Regions from separate parts of the Homo sapiens genome. Here region 1 is linked to region 2. The links come from fine-mapping of genetic effects on gene expression. A gene starts in region 2. The other region holds a variant in brackets. All regions are shown on one strand. Distances are from middle to middle. Region 1 overlaps PTPRO (protein tyrosine phosphatase receptor type O). Region 2 holds the start of PTPRO (protein tyrosine phosphatase receptor type O).

What was found. PIP is the estimated chance that this variant, and not a neighbour inherited with it, causes the effect.
Region 1: its variant is fine-mapped to the expression of PTPRO in whole blood (INTERVAL, PIP above 0.99). The same link has a PIP of 0.9 or more in blood mononuclear cells.

The regions. Positions count from the first base shown.
Region 1 is chr12:15,541,162-15,551,676 of GRCh38, reverse strand. It overlaps PTPRO (protein tyrosine phosphatase receptor type O), which reads right to left. Exons shown (of 27, transcript NM_030667.3): 13 at 4,969-5,108; 14 at 2,451-2,583; 15 at 6-126. LOC105369672 (a long non-coding RNA gene) reads left to right here. Exons shown (of 3, transcript XR_002957403.2): 2 at 8,205-8,369; 3 at 10,031-10,515. Among named protein-coding and RNA genes, the nearest start is that of PTPRO, 220 kb to the right of the region's middle. The variant C/T (reference allele first, on the strand shown) is at 5,498.
Region 2 is chr12:15,316,381-15,326,895 of GRCh38, reverse strand. It overlaps PTPRO (protein tyrosine phosphatase receptor type O), which reads right to left and starts at 4,388. Exons shown (of 27, transcript NM_030667.3): 1 at 4,095-4,388. The coding sequence starts at 4,169. The region is part of intron 2 of LOC105369673 (a long non-coding RNA gene); the gene reads left to right.

The sequences.
Region 1 (10,515 bases), 220 kb before region 2:
CTTACCTAGCCATCTGCAGATGCTTTTTCCTAAGAATAATGAGGGTAACAAGCAACAGTCCAATTAAAAGTGTGCTAAGGATGGCCAGCACGGAGATCACTACCACATTGGGATTCATCTCTGTAACTAAAGAGATAAGTTGTGCATTTTCATCATAGGTTCTCTTACAGGGAACCAAACAGAACCATTCATTGCTTTTCATCTAGTCTTAAGGGCAGTGAGCTTACGATGATACCAATAATAGTAACAATCATGTTCCCCAAGCCAGCAATGACCTCTTCCTGGTCAACTGTAACTTAGCAAACTAGACTGATAAGTGGTATTGAGGTGTCTGGAAGAATTGAGTCCCTTTCAAAGGCCTACAACATTCAGGATATTCTTACATAGGGAAACTAAAGAATGAAGAATACCTGTGCCACAGTTTAAATTCATTTGAAAGCTAAAAATGTGGAAGTCATTACCATGCATTATCGTTTTTTAACATTTTCACAAGCTTAGAGGGTGGCAACCTCTTATTTTACGCCCATGATTTTGAAGTCAGAAAGCACAACTGTATACTTTGCTTACAACTAATAATGTATATCAAAAAGACATTAGCAAACTACCATCTGCTGAAGCACTTAACACATTACTAGAAGCAGACATTCTGATGATCCGTGGCCATATGTTTAGGGGTTTTCCATCTGCACAGCTCAAGAGATAAAACCTATTAATAGGTTGTAGGGCCCTGAAGAACAGGGGTCACGTCCTTTTCATGTACTCTATATAAAGACTTGTCTCCTGTGGCACTTACACATTGTCTACTTCTTCATACTACACGGAAGAACAGGATATCAAAGGCAGGAACATAGGTTTAATATTCTTATAAAACTCTTTAAAATGGGCCTGAGGACTCATACCATCTTTTGCATTGATCATAAAGTCACAGAATGAGCAGGTGCATCTGATCCCTAAGGTTCTGGGTATTTACCACTTCCCATTTGGGCCAGCTTGGCTCCAGTTTATGAGTAGAGTGCTTAAACAGAAAGAACAATGGACGCATGATCAGAAGAGCTTTTTCGCTTGAGTACTGCTATTTGGAGAGAAGCCATTTCATCTGCCCTATGGGCCTCATTTTCCTCATTTATAAATAAGTTTAATAATATCACCTGTTATGCTACATTGTCATGGAGCTGACAAGGAATGATGGACATTAAGGTACAGTTGACCCTTGAACAAAATGAGTTTGAACTGTGCAGGTTCACATATATATGGATTATCTTTACTCTCTGCCACCCTTGAGACAGCAAGACCAAACCCTCCTCTTCCTCCTCCTCCTCAGCCTACTCAATGTGAAGACCATGAGGAAGATCTTTATGAAGATCTGCTTCCACTTAATGAATAGTACATATATTTTCTCTTCCTTACGATTTTCTCAATAACATTTTCTTTTCTCTAGCTTACTTTATTGTAAGAATACAATATATAATAAGTATAACATACAAAAATGTGTTGATCAACTGTCTATATCATTGGTAAGACTTCAGGTCAACAGTAGCCTATGAGTAGTTAAGTTTTGAGGGAGTCAAAAATTATACATGGATTTTCAACTATGCAGAGGTTGGCACTTCTAAGTCTCTCATTATTCATCGTCAACTGTATATTTTAGAAAGTGTACAAGGATGTAGGAATGAGAGACCATTAAAATACTTTGCAGGTATATTTTTTGTCCTCTCTTCTGAAAAAACAAAAATTAAAAACAGAAAACCAAAAAGAAAAAGAAAAAAGAAAACAGTCCGCTCCAGTCATCCCTGAATTTAGCAGCTAAATATATGACTAATATTACAGAAATGGAACTAAACCAGTGAAGTTATGAGTGACTTTATTACAAGAGGCTTCATAGAGGGTCTCAGGTTGCAGAATCAGACTCTAACAAACCAGGAGTAACACATGTAATACAACTAAGAAAAGAATAAGGAAATAAACAGCATCATTCCAGACCTTTCATTAACCTCTAATTTTCCCACTTATACTTTTGGCTGGATTGGAAACTTTCTTGCTTTGACCCAGTTATCAATTATGTCATTCTCTGATCGGTGACAGATGAAGACCAAGGCTAAATAGATGAAATTGGATTGATAAGAGTACTGTGCCTATTACTGAAGAAGATGAGATGAGTTAGCAACTAGCATTTAGACAGCATATACTAAGGATTTAAGTATTTTATTTCTAAGCTTCAAAACAACTCAGAAAGTTACATATTATTATTCCAATTTTACAGATGAAAGAAAAGCTCAGAGGCACCAAATGTCTTTCTCTAACTCCATAGCTAGTAAGTGCACTTTGGGATTGAAATTAAGGACTCTCTGACTCCGAAGCTTGGGATTTCTTGGTGGAATATTGATACAAATACATATATATATATATATTCAAAAAAAGTGAGAAAATTATACACTAATGTGTATAATTACCCATTGTTGAGACGGCTATGAACGTAGGGACACTGGGGCTGTCATGGCTAAAGCTGGTGACACTACAATTGTAGGCAGTGGCAGGAAGAAGGCTGGAGATGGTCACGACATGGGAAGAAACAGCAACTGGTTCCTGGGGTTTCAGAAAATAAGGTAAATTTTAGGTTAACTTCATCTATATTTTTTAAAAATATATTTCATAGTTGAGTTGGTAATAGATTGACAGAGTAAAAAATGTATAAGATGACAAAGAATAGCATTGAAAAATGTTTCCTTTTTTCCCCATTCCCCATCTGACCAATTCCCTTCCATGGAAGCAGCATTATTCCATGTTGTCAGGCATTATTTTTCTTCCCATATGCATTTTATGGATGTATGAACATATATGACACAGTTAAAAAACATAAGTGATGGCTTAGCCTACACATTATTCTGCTAATTTTTTTACCTTAGCTATCAATATATTTTGGTGCTTTTTCCATATCAGTACAGATTAAGCTGTTTTATTCTTTTTAAGAGCTGGACAGAAATCCGTTGAAAGGACATACCATAATTTATTTAATGAGCCCCGGTTGATGAATGTGTAAATGGTCTCTGATTTTTTGCTATTGCAAACAATGCTACAATGAACTTCATTTCACAAATTTGGGAAGACACACACATATGCATATAGACACACACACACACACACACACACATATATATACACACATATATACACACAATATATGCATGTAATATGTATATATGTGTGAACGTACACACATACACATATACTCATATATTCTTTGCTAGTGTCACATTCTTTGAACTGCTGAGTCAAAAAGTGTACATTTAAAATTTTGAAAGCTATAGAAAAATAGTTCTCTACAGACATTTTGCAAGTTACTCACCTTTGGCATCAATGCGTGACAATGCCTGCCTCCCTACATTCTTTCCAGTACCATACATTTGCAAACTCTGAGCTTTCCCATTATTACTAGTGAAAATTGTATATTGTAGTTTTATTTTGCATTTTTTTTTTACCGTAAGTGAGGTTGCTGAAGTTTTCATCTGTTCAAGAGATTTCTGTATTTTTCTATGAAATATTTGTTTTGGGTTGTTGACCTTTACCTTTTTTGACTTGTAGCAATTCTTTATATATTAAGGACACTACACCTTTGTCTGCATTCTTAGCTTTTATATAACATCCACTAAAACATGGCAACTATCCGCACTAAGAAACATTTAGTATTAACTTATTCTTGAGTCAAAGAAGTTGCTAACTTGGTGGACCCATGGCCAGACTAGTGACAAGTACTACTGTACAACAGCAAAAGATGAGCCAGCATTTTTTTCAAAACAAGATTTTGAAACACCCTTGCATAAAGAAATGAGAGCCATCAGCATTTTCTTCCACTTCCTTCTCTTTCACTATTCTATAAAAGAATTATTCTAAGGAAAGACTTTTGCTAACAGGACTCAGTTGTAGTAAGTAGCTAACTAACCATTGTTTTCTTAAAGGAAGGCATCACTGTAGTTATAGAGAAGAAAATCCATTATTGGCAGAGCAGTTATTTTCCAAAAGGATTCTTAGAATAGAGAAAATTCAGCTGTTCAGTACAAATCAACAAGAGATACATTCATAGAAGGGAATCTCAAAAGGAGAAAGGAATCAAAGCAAATTATCTTAGCATTCAATATGAAAAGATTTGCACTCCCAGCATTCCTTTTTTCTTCTCAATCTCATGAACTTCATTATTTAAAAAAGATCAATTACTTATGTTCGCAGTATTAGTCTACACACTATATTATGTAAAATCCCTAACAAATCTGTCCTTTTCCTTTCACTTCTGGCTGTGAAATATTTTTTCCTTGTGGCGTTGCCACTCATAGAACTGCAGGTTCATCTCTTTCCTTTCATTCATTCTGACCTGGTGAATAACTCTGTTTATCGTATCTGCCATTTGTAATTCTAGAGCTTTAGCAATAACCTTCTCTCAGTCTTCATTTTGCAATAAGACTGTCCCCCTTACAAACTAGATATGCACGTTTCTTTTAAATTCTCTTGGTCGAATGGACCTGTCTTGTGGTACTTATATTTTACTTTACTTTTTTCTATACTTATGCAATGTCTACACCATATAAAAATGTTTTGAAGGCAAATATTGATTCTATCATGTGTGTTCTATTCAGTGCCTTTATATACTTGGCAAATGGTTCATATTTGTTAAATTATATTTTATATTGTAGGGTCTTTCTTCCCTTGATCAATTCAATGGCCTACTACCTTTATTCCTTTGTCTGACCTGGAGTGACTTATGAATTAGGAACAAGTGATACAGACAAAGATAAAAGTTCTCATAACAACTTTTGGGCTTGGTCTAAGCCTGCTGTTAATTTCTATCAGTGAAACACAAAAGAGCAAATAAACAGTTTTCATTTTATATAGCTCAAAGAAATAGAAGATTCTTATTTTGCCCAGATAATTAGCCTTACTTAAGTTAACTGAGAAAAGGTAGATCAAAAGGTACAGTACCTGAAGTTTGGTTTTCTGACTGGAGCCAACTTGTTGACAGAAAACTTCAAAGAAATCAGCTACTCCCTCTTCCACCCACAGCAAAGTCACTGAAGTCTGGGTTTTGTTCACTGCGAAGAGTGATTTGGGTGGAGCTGGTTCTGAGCAAAGACAAAGTTTTAAAAAAAATTTAATTTACTAAGTGTATTCTTTCTTCTTTCACTAATAAGCAGGTGAAGCATCCCCCAATTCAAATATAGGTAGGTAAGAGCACCATAAAGACTTTATATTGCCTTTGAAATATGTCCTTTCATAAAGATAGCTATCTAACTTGGAAGGCAGAATACTTTGCCTTTTCCCCCTTCCATTTTTTTACTTCTCTTTTCAGAACACTTCTGTTTTCTACTTCAGTTTCATCATAGTCATAATCTATTAATAGTTTCTGTGTCATTTATACTGAAGTTAGCATTGCCCTGATAATACAGAACTTCCTGGATGAGAAACAAAAATCTGCACTTAATAAAGGTGGAGAAAAATGAAATTTGGTGTG[C/T]TTCCTTCTAATGATGAGATGCAGTTTGGTATTTAGCCAACAACCTGTCTTCCTTTCTCTGGAAACTATCTGGAACAATTCAGACAGAAAAATGGCTGCTTGAAAATTTAGTCAAAATTTAAAAAGATAAAGCTAAACAGATAGTATCATTTTTTTTTTTTTTTGAGGCGGGGGTCTCACTCTGTCACCCAGGCTGGAGTGCAGTAGTGCGAACACAGCTCACTGAAGCCTCATCTTCCCTGGCTCAAGTGATCCTCCTGCCTCGACTCCCAAGTAACTGGGACTACCTGGCTTATTTTTGCATTTTTTGCAGAGATGGAGTTTTGCCATGTTGCTCAAGTTGGTCTCAAACTCCTGGGCTCCAGCAATCCACCCACTTTGGCCTCCCAAAGTATTGGGATTACAGGTGTGAGCCACCGTGCCTGGCTGATAATATAATTTTTTAAGAAAAGAATTGATAGGAGGGGATTGGAAGATTAATAAAACATTAGATAAATTTTTTATCTTAGACATTTTATCTTAATAATAAATAAATCCATTCGTAAAGGAAGCTGTGTTGTCTGTCCTTTTCATACTTATTTCTAGTAATTGAGTCACTGGCATTGCTCTCTTGAGACCAAAAAACCCTGCCTGTTCCTCAATTCTAATAGTCATCTGCTGTCTCATTCTCCATTCCTGAATGTCTCCTGGTCTTCTGCTTGTGACCCTGTCTTTTGGATGTTGTCTTTCCCTCTAGGTCCCCCAGTATGCAGAGTGCTGTGCCTGAACTCAAGGTTTTAAGCTGGGGTCCCTGTTACCTGCTCTCAGACCCCCTGACATTGCTTATTTGGACATATTGTACCTTGCTGCTAGGTTCACATAACAGCATCCTCCATCCACCTATATGCGCCTGTCAGACGACTACCCACTGTTGTAGGTTTCTTCCTGCTTGTTACTTGGATTTTTCATTTTCTGCCCCACTCTCCTAAGTCTGTTCTCCAGCTCCTGTCCTTTAGAGGTGCTTGAAAAAGTCCTGTCAGCCATTTCACTGCTTTGACAGGTACACATCTTTGTGTGGAAAGATTTGAACCTTGTTTCTAGAATATCATCATTGTGACTCTGCCCAGGACCAAGAAGTATGTCAAAATCATTCTTGCCATGATTTATCACAGATCTCCTAAACTTGTGTCCAACTAAAAAGAAGCATGTTTCTTTCCTGCAGCAACTTGACAAGGTTAGGCAGAAGAGTTGAAGGAGGAAAGAGATGAGTTCTTCTTAGGCAAGCAAAATTCACAATAGGTGTCAGGAGCCCTTTTTCACTTGCAATGAATTGTCCAGTCCTCCAGGCATTGTATTGTCCCACTTCTGCTCTGAGGAAGACTGCTAATGAAACACAGAGGTCAATTTCCACTTCTCACTTCCTTTATAACTGCCTTTGCTAATAGGATTATGTCCTTTAGGGATTCTGACTCATGTGGAACTTGAATCTATAGAACCAAGTGTGAAGTTGTTTGGGGGCATAGATGAATGATTAGTTAGGCTGAGCCTAGGCTTTTCTTTTTTAAAAATGCACACTACAGAATTGTTCCTCAGTCACAATTCTGAGGCTCTTCCCTTATTTCTCAGTCCCAGAGAGCATATCTTTTAAAAACTCGTTACCTTTTCCTTTAATCTTTTTTTTTTTTTTTTTTTTTGAGATGGAGTCTCGCTCTGTCACCAGGCTGGAGTGCAGTGGTGGTGCAATCTCGGCTCACTGCAACCTCTGCCTCCCGGGTTCAAAAAATTCTCCTGCCTCAGCCTCCTGAGTAGCTGAGACTACAGGCGCATGCCACCATGCCCAGCTAATTTTTTTGTATTTTTAGTAGAGACAGGGTTTCACCATGTTGGCCAGGATGGTCTCGATCTCCTGACCTTGTGATCTGCCTGCCTCTGCCTCCCAAAGTGCTGGGAGCTGGGATTATAGGCATGAGCCACCACCCCCGGCCTCCTTTAATCTATTTTTAAATTATATTGCATGTCTAGACTTTTGTGATCACATTCATTGATCATCACAAACTTGCTGTGCCTCTTTTTCCCTGGCTCTAATCAATTCTTTCTTCATTTTGTCAACAACGGATTAAAATCACCTTAAAATGCCATTTCACTCATGTTAAATCCTATCTGTGCATTGTCTGTGGTATCACATCCAAACATACCATGTCTTTAAGATCCTGCTTAAACTGGCTGCATGCTATCCAACCAGCTTCACCACCATTCCTGACACACAGATGTGTTGCCTCCTGGGAAAGACAGTCTTCTCACTGAACTTCAGGGCAGTGCTCTATGTCAGCCCATGTTTGCCTTCAATCAGTATGCTCTTTATTCTGCTCATTCGAAGGTCAAGAAAAAGTCTTACCTCCTCCTTGAAGTCTCATTTGGTGACTCTTTCTCTTAATGATTTATCCCTTCTCTGACATTCTACTGCCTTTAATTATTTCCTATATAATCTATGTGAGTGAAGGCCTGATTCTAGTAGATCCTATTAGATTCTTTAAGAACAAGGGTCATGTGTTATAAATGACTTTGTCTTCATTTGAAGTAGCCACCTATAGGTACTCAAAAAATCTTATTTATCGGCTGATTTAAAACATGAGTCAAGATTCATCAACCAAAAGAGGAGGATTCAAGCACCAGGCAAGACCAGACACGCTGAGGTTGTATCTTAATGTTCTCTTCTGTTTTTATGTAGGTAAAATTATCCAATTTCAGGGGCAAAGTCAAGAACTATCATGAATTACTGCAAGAGCTCCCAGTGGTCCAAGGAATACGACATGAATACTGCAGTGAGGGTTTCCTTTGTTCTGGCTGAGAATGTGGCTCTAGGTGATAAGATCCTCAGGAAAATCTCCTAAAGGTCTGGGACATCTAACAACCACGTAACAAATTTTTCTTTTTGGGTGGAATATGAGGGCAATAGATTATTTCAAGGTCCCTGCACCTGTGATCACTGTGTACTTTTCTGGAAGACGTTTACATGTCAGCTCTATAGGTCAATGAATACATACATAAATCACCTGCTTGAGGACTGTTCAGGATCTTCGTGATTGGTGTGCTTCCCTAAATTAATCAGGCAGAAATTTAACTCTGGTATCCCAAAGGAAACAAAGAAAGTTATTACAATTTATTGTTATTATAATTATGAACTTATTACTATTACAAGATTTCACAAGTGAAAGTATAATTGAATTGGGAGTGCTTATAATTAGATTTTCCTACTCAAGACAACAACTGTCCCAGGAAATGTTTTAAAATGTAAGAATCGGAATGTGAATTGTCCAACACAGCCACTAGCCACATGTAGCTGTTGCGTACTTGAAATGTGGCTAGTCCAAATTGAGAGGTGTTGCAAATGTAAAATACAGACAGAATGTCAAAGACCTAGTGTGAGAAAAGAATAAAATATCTTATTAATAATTATTTATATTGATTATATGTTGGAACAATATGACCTTGGATATATTTGGTTACATAAAGTATATCGAATTCAATTTTACCTGTTTCTTTTTACTAATTTTTAATGTGGCTACTAGAAAATTGAAAGTTATACATGTGGCCCTTATTATGTTTCAAATGAATAGTACTGAGTTAGAGCATTTCTTCTTATTGCCTAGAGTAGAAGTCTGGAAATTTCTGGCAAAAACTGGCTAGGGGGTTCCCACTTCTCATGAGAAGTCAAGGCCAGCTCAGTGCCACAGCCTAAGATGGTTTAGATCAAACTTGTCCAACCCATGGCCCGTAGGCCGCATGCTGCCCAGAATGGCTTTGAATGCAGCCCAACACAAATTCATAAACTTTCTTAAAACATTGTGAGATACTTTTAGTGAAATTTTTTTGATTCATCAGTGTTAGCATATTTTATGTGTGGCCCAAGATAATTCTTCTTCCAGTGTGGCACATGGAAGCCAAAAGCCAAAAGACTGGACACCCCTGGTTTACATGACTCATGTTTTCCATTCTCAGAAGCACAAGATTAAAGTAGATAGTGGCTAAATATTAATTAGGCAATTGCATATGATAGGGAATACAATGACATCAAAGGCATTTTGATTGCTTTCTATCTTTGTTATGGGATGAATTATATCCCCTCCGCCTAAATTCATATGCTGAAACCCTAACCCTTAGTACCTCAGAATGTGACTATTTTTTTTTTTGAGGTGGAGTCTTGCTCTGTCACCCAGGCTGGAGTGCAGTGGCATGATCTTGGCTCACTGCAAACTCCACCTCCCAGATTCAAGCGATCCTCCCACTCAGCCTCCTGAGTATCTGGGACTACAGGTGCCTGCCACCACACCCGGCTAATTTTTGTATTTTTAGTAGAGACGGGGTTTCACCATGTTGGCCAGGCTGGTATCGAACTCCTCACCTCAAGTGATCCACCCACCTCAGCCACCCAAAGTTTTGGGATTACAGGCGTAAGCCACCACACCCAGGATGAATAGGGCCTTTAAAGAGGTGATTAAATTAAATGAAGCTGTTAGCACGTGCTCTAATCTAATCAGACTGGTGTCCTTATAGGAAGAGGAAATATAAACAGTAAAGAGATGTACAAGCACAAAGAAAAGACCGTGTGAGGACACAGTTACAAAGTGATCATCTGCAAGCCTCAGGAGAAGCCTACTCTGCTCACACTTGGACCTTGAACTTCCAGACTCCAGATCTGTGAGAAAACAAATTTCTGTTGTTTAAGCCACCCAGTCTGTGGTATTTTGCTATGACAGCCCTAGCAAACTAATACAGTCTCTTACTATTCAAAATACCAAATATGTCCCTTTCTGCACATGAGGGATGAAAAAACCCTATAAAATATCAAATACAGTCAGTCTTCTAAAGCAGAAGGATAGGAAAAAACCAATAATGTTGAGAAGAGTAAATGAAATTTAAGACAATGCATACACAAACACTTTATATAATGTAAAGTCATGTAGATATTAGTTATGGAACATCTCCTGGCTATTGCTTTTTATCTCTCTAAATGACATTTTCAATCATAACATTTTCCA
Region 2 (10,515 bases):
AAAACATTAAGTGCTTTACAGTAAAGCTCATCACTGCACTGGGATATGTTTCTGAAAATGCAACATCACTGAAACTGTGTACGGAGAGGCATTAAATTAGGGGAAAATGAAAACTTGTGGTCATTGTTGTTAAGCCTTCTATTGTGCCACACTGCTACCAATTACAATGTTTTACTTAAGTGCATCAACTGTATCTGACATCAAACATTCTTTTACAACCCCTCAAGTTAGAATTATATTTATAAGGTTCAGGAGTAAATCTGCTTATACGTTTAAATACCTTTAAGTTGGATATTTAGATAGTAGAAATAGTGTTACATTTTAAAATAAAGTACAACTCATATTGTTTTTAATCAGTTATCCACATAAATGTGCATTTTCTTTTGGGCCAAAATGAGGCAGAGGTGTAATGTGAATTTTTCATTCCTTCACACAACGATAGTCTCTCACAAAACAAAGAACAAAAGGAAACATATGTTCACAGTGGGAAGGATTATTACTCGATCATCTGTAGAAGCATGGCCCAGGGAGCCTTTGCCAACCTACTGGGGATGTCACATGTAAAAAGGTTTCTCCAAAAGGTTGGCAATATGATTTATTAAAGGAGTCAGATGACATGGGAGTTAAGGGCAGCAAACTTCATTGTGATGGAAAGGATCTAAGCTGCTCCAGCAAAATGAAAGGATTATGGTTCACCTGCCAACACTGTGCAATTTATGGATGAAACCTCAACCACGAAAAGTGAAACTTCTTTGTGTGTGTGTATGGGGTTGCGAGGGGAGACATAGGAAAGGAAAGGCAGACAGACCGTGGAAAACAGATATTTCCCCTGGATAAGAGTAGAATGGCCAGTATCATAACACTCATGTATTATAGAATTAAATATAAACCTGTTTCAGAAAGTACAATATTAAGACCCTTTTTAAATTTGATATTCTTTGATGATATCTCTGGTAAAAGCAGAAATAGAAAGAAATAGAGAGAAGGGGTTAAAAAAGAAGGACACACGCCAAGCACTTGAGTTTAGGAATATATTCCAGCTGACTACTAAAAAGCAACATTTCAGGGAAGGCCAACTTCAAATTCCTATGATGTCATATTCCACGATTTGCACCTTAGTAGACAAAGTACTTATACTGAGTAAACTGATACAGGAAGACATTTTCTAGGAGGGCTTTAGTAAAGATAGGACAAGTGTAGGAAGTTACATTTCTTTCACTGGGAATTATGGGAAGACACACAACAGCGAGGCTCGCCAGATAAATACCTCACTTGCATTCATCCATAGAAGACTTTGAAATTAGTAGCCTTCAATATAATAACAGAGTTCCATTTTTTCTTCTATTTTATATACACCATCAATATTGATATAAAAATAAAAATTTTCATAACCAACATTGTGTTTAGGCAAGATAAATTATGCAGATATTAGCTTCATAATGTGCAGTGAATGATTTAGACAGTCTGAGATGCCCGATTATATGTGCTCATCACTGCTCCATGGATAAGGAACGATGGCACAAAGACCTTCTTGGCCAGTCACATTTAGTCTCCCTCAATGGAACTGATTATAGCCATTCATACACATTCAAACTTTCCTACTTTTCCACCACTGATATCCAGCTGCTTATTTTTGAGTTGTGGAAAATGTAAAGCTGTAAATTAAGCCTCATACTTGAATTTCTCTGTCTTATTTTCCTTCAGAATTTTCACTCTTATATAAAGGATACACATATGGAGTAGTGAAAAATGTATTAACTATAGTGAAAACTATGGAAATTATTTTGGCAAGGGAGAGTTGAGAGAATGTTTCATTTCTGACTCGGCACACGTGGAACATTTTGGATTTTATTATTGAGATACAGTTAGCAGTTTGGTATTTAATAATGAATTTTTTCTCATCCTCCAGTCACAACCTGCTTGAGTAGATCTGTTTTACTGGCACTTAATCAGGACCTTTAATTCAAAAATATCTCCAAATTATAAAGAGATTATACCATGTGCCCAACGCACCATGTAATATACTATCCTCTAAATGTAAGATATTACACTGTGTGCCCAATTTACCATTTTTTTTGAACAACTCTTGTCAACTGCAGCAAAATAGGATTAAATGAAATAACGTATGTAAAATGCCTAAAAAACCAGCACATAGAAGGTATTTAATATATACAGTTTTTTCTTCTTTCCTCTGATATAGTTTATATTCAGGTGACAAAAATATTACATTCACATAAAATAAAGGAAAATGATTTTTCTTACAAAATTATGTGTCCCACTACAATAATTATTATTTAAATGGCAAACTTTGCCAATGTATTTACTATGGAAGCAGTTTGCCATAATTTACATTTACCTGCAATGTTCAGGAATATACCTATTATGTGAAGCAGGCTGGACCTCTATGACAATCACTAACATTTTCATTACACCATCACTAACTGCATTTTCTCATTCCAATATCGAGTTTTAAGTCAAACAATGGCCACATTTATTTTATTTTAATTGCAAAACCTTACCCCCACTCCCAACCAAGTCATTCTCTTATTTCTGGAATTATCTCATTATGAAGAACTCACGCAAAAACCTGCAGTTGTGCTAAACGTTAGGTTTGGATCAGATGTCATACATATAACTCTTAGCTGTTGCTCGTAAAATGCATAGTGACTTGGTTTCTAATTTTTGGTTCATGACAATTATTGCATAGGTAAAATAGTTGTGACAGTTTGATAAATAGTTAGAAAACGACTAATAGACAACCTAATAAGTCTAATGCATTTATGATGTGTATGAAAGAACAACCTCCTACAGTAAAAACATATAACTGAGCTTATTATTTACCATACTTTAAAATTAATGATTATTGATAATTTAAGAAAAAATGTTAAAACATATTAAATATATTTTAAGGTCTTACTTAGGCATTCTGTTGCTGTTTCTCCCTGAATTTTTTTTATATTTTTCATTAAGATAAATGAAAATATGGAGTATTTAAAAGTAATGCTGTTCTTAATCCATTGGTCCTGTTCCATTATATTCTTTTTAGGCATTCATAATTAATGGTGCATATAAGCAAGAAGTGACTCTATAATAAGAAAACCTTTGGATCCATTAACCTGGCATCCATTTCTAGGGAAGGTATCACTGTGGTCCTGAAAGGATAGCTCCAAGTCACCTGTCGACATTCTTGAGTTTGCTTTGCGGAGAGAGGAAAAGACTAACAACAGAACTAAAGTAGATCCACTGAAGACATGAGTGATAGACAATCACTTCAGAACTTCACATCGCCGTCCAAGAAAACATCTAGCTGACATTTCTTCAAAAAAATTTATGTACAGTATAGTTGTCAAACTGATTTTTCAAAAGCAACTCCTTTGCTTTTCATTTTTCTCAAAGTAAAACCTCAGGGTAGCACATTCCAAAGAAGATACGAAAAAGTTTATTATTATATATTTTTCCACCATTAAATCTAGGGGTAATATCATCTGTAAATATAGTGGAGAAAGTCTGGAGACTTTTTAAAAGGAATTGTAAAGATGTTGATAGGAGTTGGGGAGAGGAATCCTTACCAAGCTCTCTACCTGACACTCCTTATTCAAAGAAAATTCTGCCCTAACGTAGCCCTGGCAGTCCATTTGTGTCCAGGGAGCTCAGTCCCCCTCCACTCTCCAGTGTATAATTCCAGCAGTAAGGAAAATTAAGACAAAGCATTCTGTGCGAGGGAGGGCGGAAAGGTTAAGCAGCGTTGGGGTGCAGTGGAAACCAGAAAAGAAAGTGACCTCATTTTGCCTGAGAAAGCACGATCCAACAAGCCCACCTTTGATGTGGATTTCAGCAGCGATAAAAGAGCACAAAGGGCGAAAGCCGGAGGGAGCAAACTTCCCTTATTCTTCCCCCCGCCCCCTACCTCTCAAGACCACCAGGAACACGCACACGCGAGGACAACAAAGCGTGCGCCCAGGCTGCACGGCAGGCGCTTCCCGCGGCTGGGCCATCGTGCCCTGGGGCGCGCCGCTCCCAACGGCAGAGCGAGGGCGCCGGAGCGCGGCTGCCGCCCGGACCGCTGGGAAAAAGGGGTGGAGGAGCTCCCCTACCTTGAACAGCACAAAGAGCCAGAGCAGAGGCAGGAGGCGGCGGGCGCCGTGTATCCCCGTGGGCAGGTGCCCCATCGCTGCGCGGACGGGGACTCGGGGGCACGGCTGCGCTAGCGGACTCCCCCGGCGGCGGCTCACAATGGCGAACTGGGGCTGCAGCCTCAGACCCTGGGCGCCGAGGTTGCTCCTGGCGAGCGCATGCTGCCTTTCCAGTCCCCCTGCGCCTGCTCCCTTTCCTCCTCTGCGCCCGGGGTCCTCCAAGAACGTGCCAGGCGCTGCTGTTCTTTAATGACTAAGGATGGAGAGGGTGGGGATTGGAGTGGGCGAGGCTCTGCCGCCGCCACCACCGCGGCTGCCAGAGGAGGCGCGGGGTCTGTGTGGTGAGCGAGAGGCGGGGACCCCGCGCCCAGCCCGCCGTAGTCCTCTGGCAGCAGGGACACTCTCACTCTGGCTGCCGACCCATAAAATGACAGCAGCCTCCCAACCCTCCACCAGGATCGGCCCGCTGCTTGCTACTGCTGGACAGCCCCCATTGCAGACTCCGCCTCAACCCCTCCCTCAATCTCTGGGTCTCAGGAGTTCTGAGGGGTTTCCCTGACCTCTCTTGAGCAATCCAGGCGCCAGATCCCAGTTCCCTCTCAATCTTCCTACATCTGTACTCAATTGCAGTTATAAAGGATCAATAACAGTTGGGTAGTTGTGACTGTAGAAATAGTGTGTAGTGTGAGTGTGTGAGTGTGTGTGATAGGAAGGGTATTTTCTCTCCTTCCCCACTGCTTCCATTATCTCCATCCCATTTCAACACTCTCACCGTCTCCGTCCCACACTCACCCAGGAACAAATAGCACAATTATGCACCTTTTCCATTTGAAATCCGCAGTTCTTGTACATTTCAGATTCTCTTTTGATACCAAAGTGTGTCGGGTCACCTGAAGCTGAATATAGAAGGGGGAAAAATCACAGTATTTTACATGTATGACCCTTGAACAACACGGGTTTGAACTGTTGGGTCCAGTTATATGCAGATTTTCTTCCACCTTTGCCAGCCTTGAGACAGCAAGACCAAACCCTCTTCCTCCTCCTCTGCCTGCTCAGCCTGAAAAGGATGACGTTAAAGACTTTTATGATAATTCACTTCCACTCAATGAATATAAATGTATTTTCTCCTCTTTATGGTTTTCTTAATAATATTTTCTGTTCTCTAGCGTACTTTATTGTAAGAATACAGTATACAATACATACAACACAAAATGTGTGTTAATCAACTGTTTATTATGTTATCAGTAAGGTTTCCGGTCAAGAGTAGGCTATTAGTAGTTAAGGTTTTGATGAGTTCAAAGTTATATGTGGATTTTCAACTACGTGATTCTCTGTGTTGTCCAAGTGTCAACGGTATGTACAGTTATATTTTTAAACAATTATCTGTGAATAATTTTACTGGGATGTTTTAGAATCACAAGCAACGACTTTCAAGCTGTGGGTCCCCAATCTACTACTTGTCTCCTTTTTTGTTATGTGTATTTTTTTAAAGATAAGTCTGTCGAAATCAACTCTGGTATGCACTGTTCAGATAGAAATCATTTCTTATTGTCATGTAAATTACCCTTGCTGTGCCCTGTCAGTATTGGAACTTATTTATACCTGAGACATGCTTGGGCAACAGGAGACAGGAAAGGCCACCCTGGTCATGAATGTAGGTGTTCAGGCATAGACTTTGTCAGTCACACAGCTAGGGAGTGGTGGCCTGAGAAAAGGATCCAGAGCTGTGTTTACTCAGCTTTTGCTGCATGAGCAATGGCCAAACACTAATCATTTGGTTGTTGTTTGTATGTGTCTTAAGGAAGCTTTAGATTGAATATGTTTACATAAGTGTGAATATGTATATATACACATGTGTACATGTACACATATGTGTACATGTACATATGTGTACACACATGTGTGTGCATGTACATATGTGTACACATATGTGTGTGCATGTACATATGTGTGTACACATATGTGTATGTGTGTACATAGATACATATGTGTATGCATACGTATATGTATATGTACGCATATGTATATGCATGGTACATATATGTATATATGTACCAAATTTCATATGCATGAAATATGTACCAAAATTCATATGCATGAAAATATAGAATGATGGTCTGAATTTTTGTGAGAATATTATCCTTGGTGTCTTCTTTTAGAAGCTTCTTTTGTTTTCACATTCCCATCACATGCTCTCTTCAGGTCCCTCATGTCCACTCATCATTGGTTTGGACATTTTCTTTCTTTTGAGAAAATGTTAACTGCTCCTCCCTCCCTCTGGGTTAGACTTACGGGCTATCTGAACATTTAATCCTTGGGATTGCACTTATAGGAACTTTGGTTTAATATGTTTTCTTTTTATTTTGACGCTCCTGAAGCAGCATTTTATTCCCACTCGCCCTCAGAAGTGGCTGTAAAGTGATCTAATCTCTAGAACATAAGATATATATAGGCCAAGGGCAACAATCACACTCACAGGATGCCAACAATTTCTCTTTGGAGTAGCATTTAATTTTAAAATGTGTCTGTGAATTATGGGTCTGTATGATGATATTCATTTGTGTGTATGCATATGTCTGTGTGTATACATGGATATAGCCTTGCCTGATGTGCGTAGGGCGTTTAAAGCAGTTCTGATCATAAATTAATCTTGTAAATGCTAAAAGAACTTTCACAATGAGGCTCCCTTTTAAATAATCATATTCTGCTGCGTCTTTCTGTTTTTCTCTTAGTCATACATCACAATTTGTTCAGCTCTTTCTGTCTTTGTGCATATATATATATATGTATATATATATATATATATATATATATTATGTGGACCACTTTGGAGGAACAATAACAGTAAACAGTAAGTAGTAAAGCATTAGTAATTGGCATTGTTGTTATTTTATTAGTAACATTGTGGTTAGATGGGCTGAAGACTGAAAGTATTATTTTATAATCACAGAAAATTTCCTCTCTAGAGAAAAGTATTTTACATTGCTATTGCTGGATAAAATACTTTCATTTGTTTTTATTGCACTTAAACCATAACAGTGTCCTAGAAGAGATTCTCATAAAGAATGTGAATGCTGTGTCATCCACAGTGTGGGGTTTTCAATTCATAGAGCATGTTTTGTGTTTCTTTGAGCTATTGACTGGTTTTTCAATACAATACTTCCAAAGTATGATAAATCTTATTATGCTATTTTCAAGACTCCAAATCAACAAAACAGCCAGGGGCAACATACAGTGCATATAGTAATTTATGTTTCACCAATTGCTTCTACATATTGGTCCAGATTTCATTATGACAACCACATTGTTAGGTAAAGAAGGCTGAGATCATTATCACCAACTGTTTTCCCCTAATGCTACTTTTCCTGGAGAAAAAATAAACACAGAAAAATAATAATATCTCTGACATGCCATAAAACAAGCATTGAAAAATAAGTTCTCACAAATTGAAATAAAGCTCTCTACTTCCTTTGAAAATTATAAAAAGGTGGTTAATGATCATGAAACTGGAAGGTCTTTTTAAAATCTATAGGAGGCTTAGTTTTTACCAAGAAAAGCGATCTTTTCCTAAATATGTAGAAATGTATCTTTGCCTACGTGGTTCACATCTATCTCTTCTATAGAAAAGCAAGCGCAGACACAGAGAAGCAGCTAGAATCCCTGTGAGAGGTTTAATGAGGAGTCAAATGGAACTCTTACGGTGCCCTTGCCAATGAAGCTCAATTCTGTCCTCCAGGGACAACCTCTAATGTAGTTGAGTGTGTTTAGTCCTGGCTTCCACTACTGAAATAGCCTACAAGGCTGTCAGCAGTTTCAGTATTAGATAATTGTATTTATGGGGGATGCTCAATGACAAATAATTTACTTTATATGGAATAGAAAGAAAAATTCAAGCAATTGTTCTCTAGACTCTATTCCATTGGAAAAGTAATAGCCATTCAGTTTGTTGTCCATATCTCACATGTTACAATTTTTATAGCATATGAACTGTAGATTATCTGTATTAAGCTCTTGGAAGAAAATGACCAGGAAGCATTTTGATTTTCTATTTATTTGAGCATTTGTTTTAATTTTTTCTCTTGATGAGCACTGGTTTCTCACCTAAATGATGTGTTGACAATTCATAAGTTTTGTGTCTTTCAAAATGAGAACGATTGACAGCCCTCAGGTGAATGGCATGTTCCAACTGCCAAGACTTATTACTCTTGCTGCACTTGAAAAACAGTGGAAATACGCTAAAGAAGGTCATTTTTGCTTTTACTTGGAGAGTCTTTTCCCATTATATTCCCCTCTCCCGCCGCAAAAGATTCCTATTAAGAGACCTATCTTACTTGTACTTGACTCTTACATGTCTTAAAGAAAATCAAATAAGAATATTGCATTACAAGATATGTCTTACAACACAAAATTATATACTTAAAGAAATAAGGAAACATACATAGAAAGTGTGAGCAGATATGCAGATATATATCACTGGACACAAATTACAGGCTATAGGATAAACAGCCCTACATTAGAAATGCAGATTGTCGTGTTTTTAGATATTATACCTTCATTCAGTCATATACTAGGATTCTGTTTGTTGCTAGCATTTCATTTAATTGCTCTAAAACTTTAATAAAAGGCATTAGCCTTAAGTTATATGATTTTATCTCATATTTTATTTATATGAAATGCCTTGACTAATGAACTTCTAAAATATTTTTTCTGAATGTTCCAGACATTGCTATCATTTACTAATTTAGCTTTTCTTCATAACTAGGTTTTTTGGCTAACTATAATTTAAAGTATTAGCATCACTGCACTGAGTGATTCACTTTAGCTTGGCATGAAAAGCAAGAATAGAACCTGAGTGTAATTTATAGCTAAAGCAAGACATAGTGTTTGCTAAGTGGAAATGGTATCTGCTGATGCTTCCTTCCCTTCCTTCTTTACTTCCCCTCAAATTAAAGGTGCAATGCAACATTTACAGTCAACTCAGTGTCACACATAGTGCCTACATATGTGCCACTTAAAAACAGCTACCAATATCTAATTATGAAAAATTTGGTGATGGTGATTTCAGGTGCTATGTAAAAACTATGAAAACATTAATCGCATATTTTGAAAATCCACTGCCTTAACTGCTAAGGGTTTTACCTCAGCAGTTATAGTACTATAGCAGGTATAACAACATTGCATTGACAATCATACTTCAAATCAATCACACCAAATCAATTTTATGCTGAAATTACAAAGCTAATGATATATTCAAATTTAACTGTGAGAGAAGGGGTAAAGAAGACCATACTCTGAAGAGATGAGGGGATGCCACTGATAGATTGATGTTATTACCTGTCTTAGCAGAGGGACATAGAAGAAAAAATTTAAAGAAGGCACAGTAATTCTAGAGAAAATGAAGTGCCCAAGGGAAAACTAAAACATCCTCCTCATCAAAACACAAAAAGAGAAGGCAAAACAGGAAAGTCACACATTTCTAGATACACTTGCTTAGTGTGAATATCTGTAAGAGAAGCAGTTTGGGAGTGGGGGTTATATGTAGAGATTTCACCTGTTTTGGTTAATAATTTGATAATGTGGAAAAATTATAAGAGTAAGCATTTAATGTATCTCAAGAGGATGATTTGAGTGAAATCTGATCAGGGATCAACATATGTGAAGCCTATGGCCATTCTCTGTTAACTCACTATCTCACTCTACAGTGACCACTTTCTGCCTTTTCTACTCATCTCAAAGCTTCAACCCTCTGCCCTGGAAAACTTTTCAGTGTTTTGGCTTCACCTTCTACCTTAGAGAGGAAACAGAGGTGACAACTTTTTTATCTTCCTTGACAGTAAACATAATTCCAACCCATATTCAATTCATTTCTGTCTTGTTGAGTACAAGGAATGGTCTCTCTCTCCCTCTCAACGACCATATAAAGAAAATTTTACCACCTATTTTCGGGAGCTCATTACTTCCAGCCTTTTCTGTGCTATTTTGATGGATTCCATCCTTTGGGTTTTTAACCATGTTCATAACTTTACAACTGAAGGAAAGAAAGTCTTCACTGGGCCCTGCTTGTCCTTGGCCGCAACCTTTTCTTTCTCTCTCTCTTTCACCACTGCCACCGTCCGTTCACAGCGATGATTTTTGAATGGTCGTGTATACTCTGTCTCCATATTTTTCAGCTTCTACTTGCTTTTCAAACCACTCTGTAGGGCTTCTGTTCCCATCATCTCCTGAGCACTGCTCTCACCAAAGTCCACTAGGAACCTCTTGGGAGAGTATGCTATGTTGGCTGTTCCCTCCTTCCTCAAGCATTCTCTTCTCCAACTTTCTGTAACCTTACACAACCCTGTTTTTTGGCTATATTTCTGACTGTCCTTTTTGTATCTCCCTT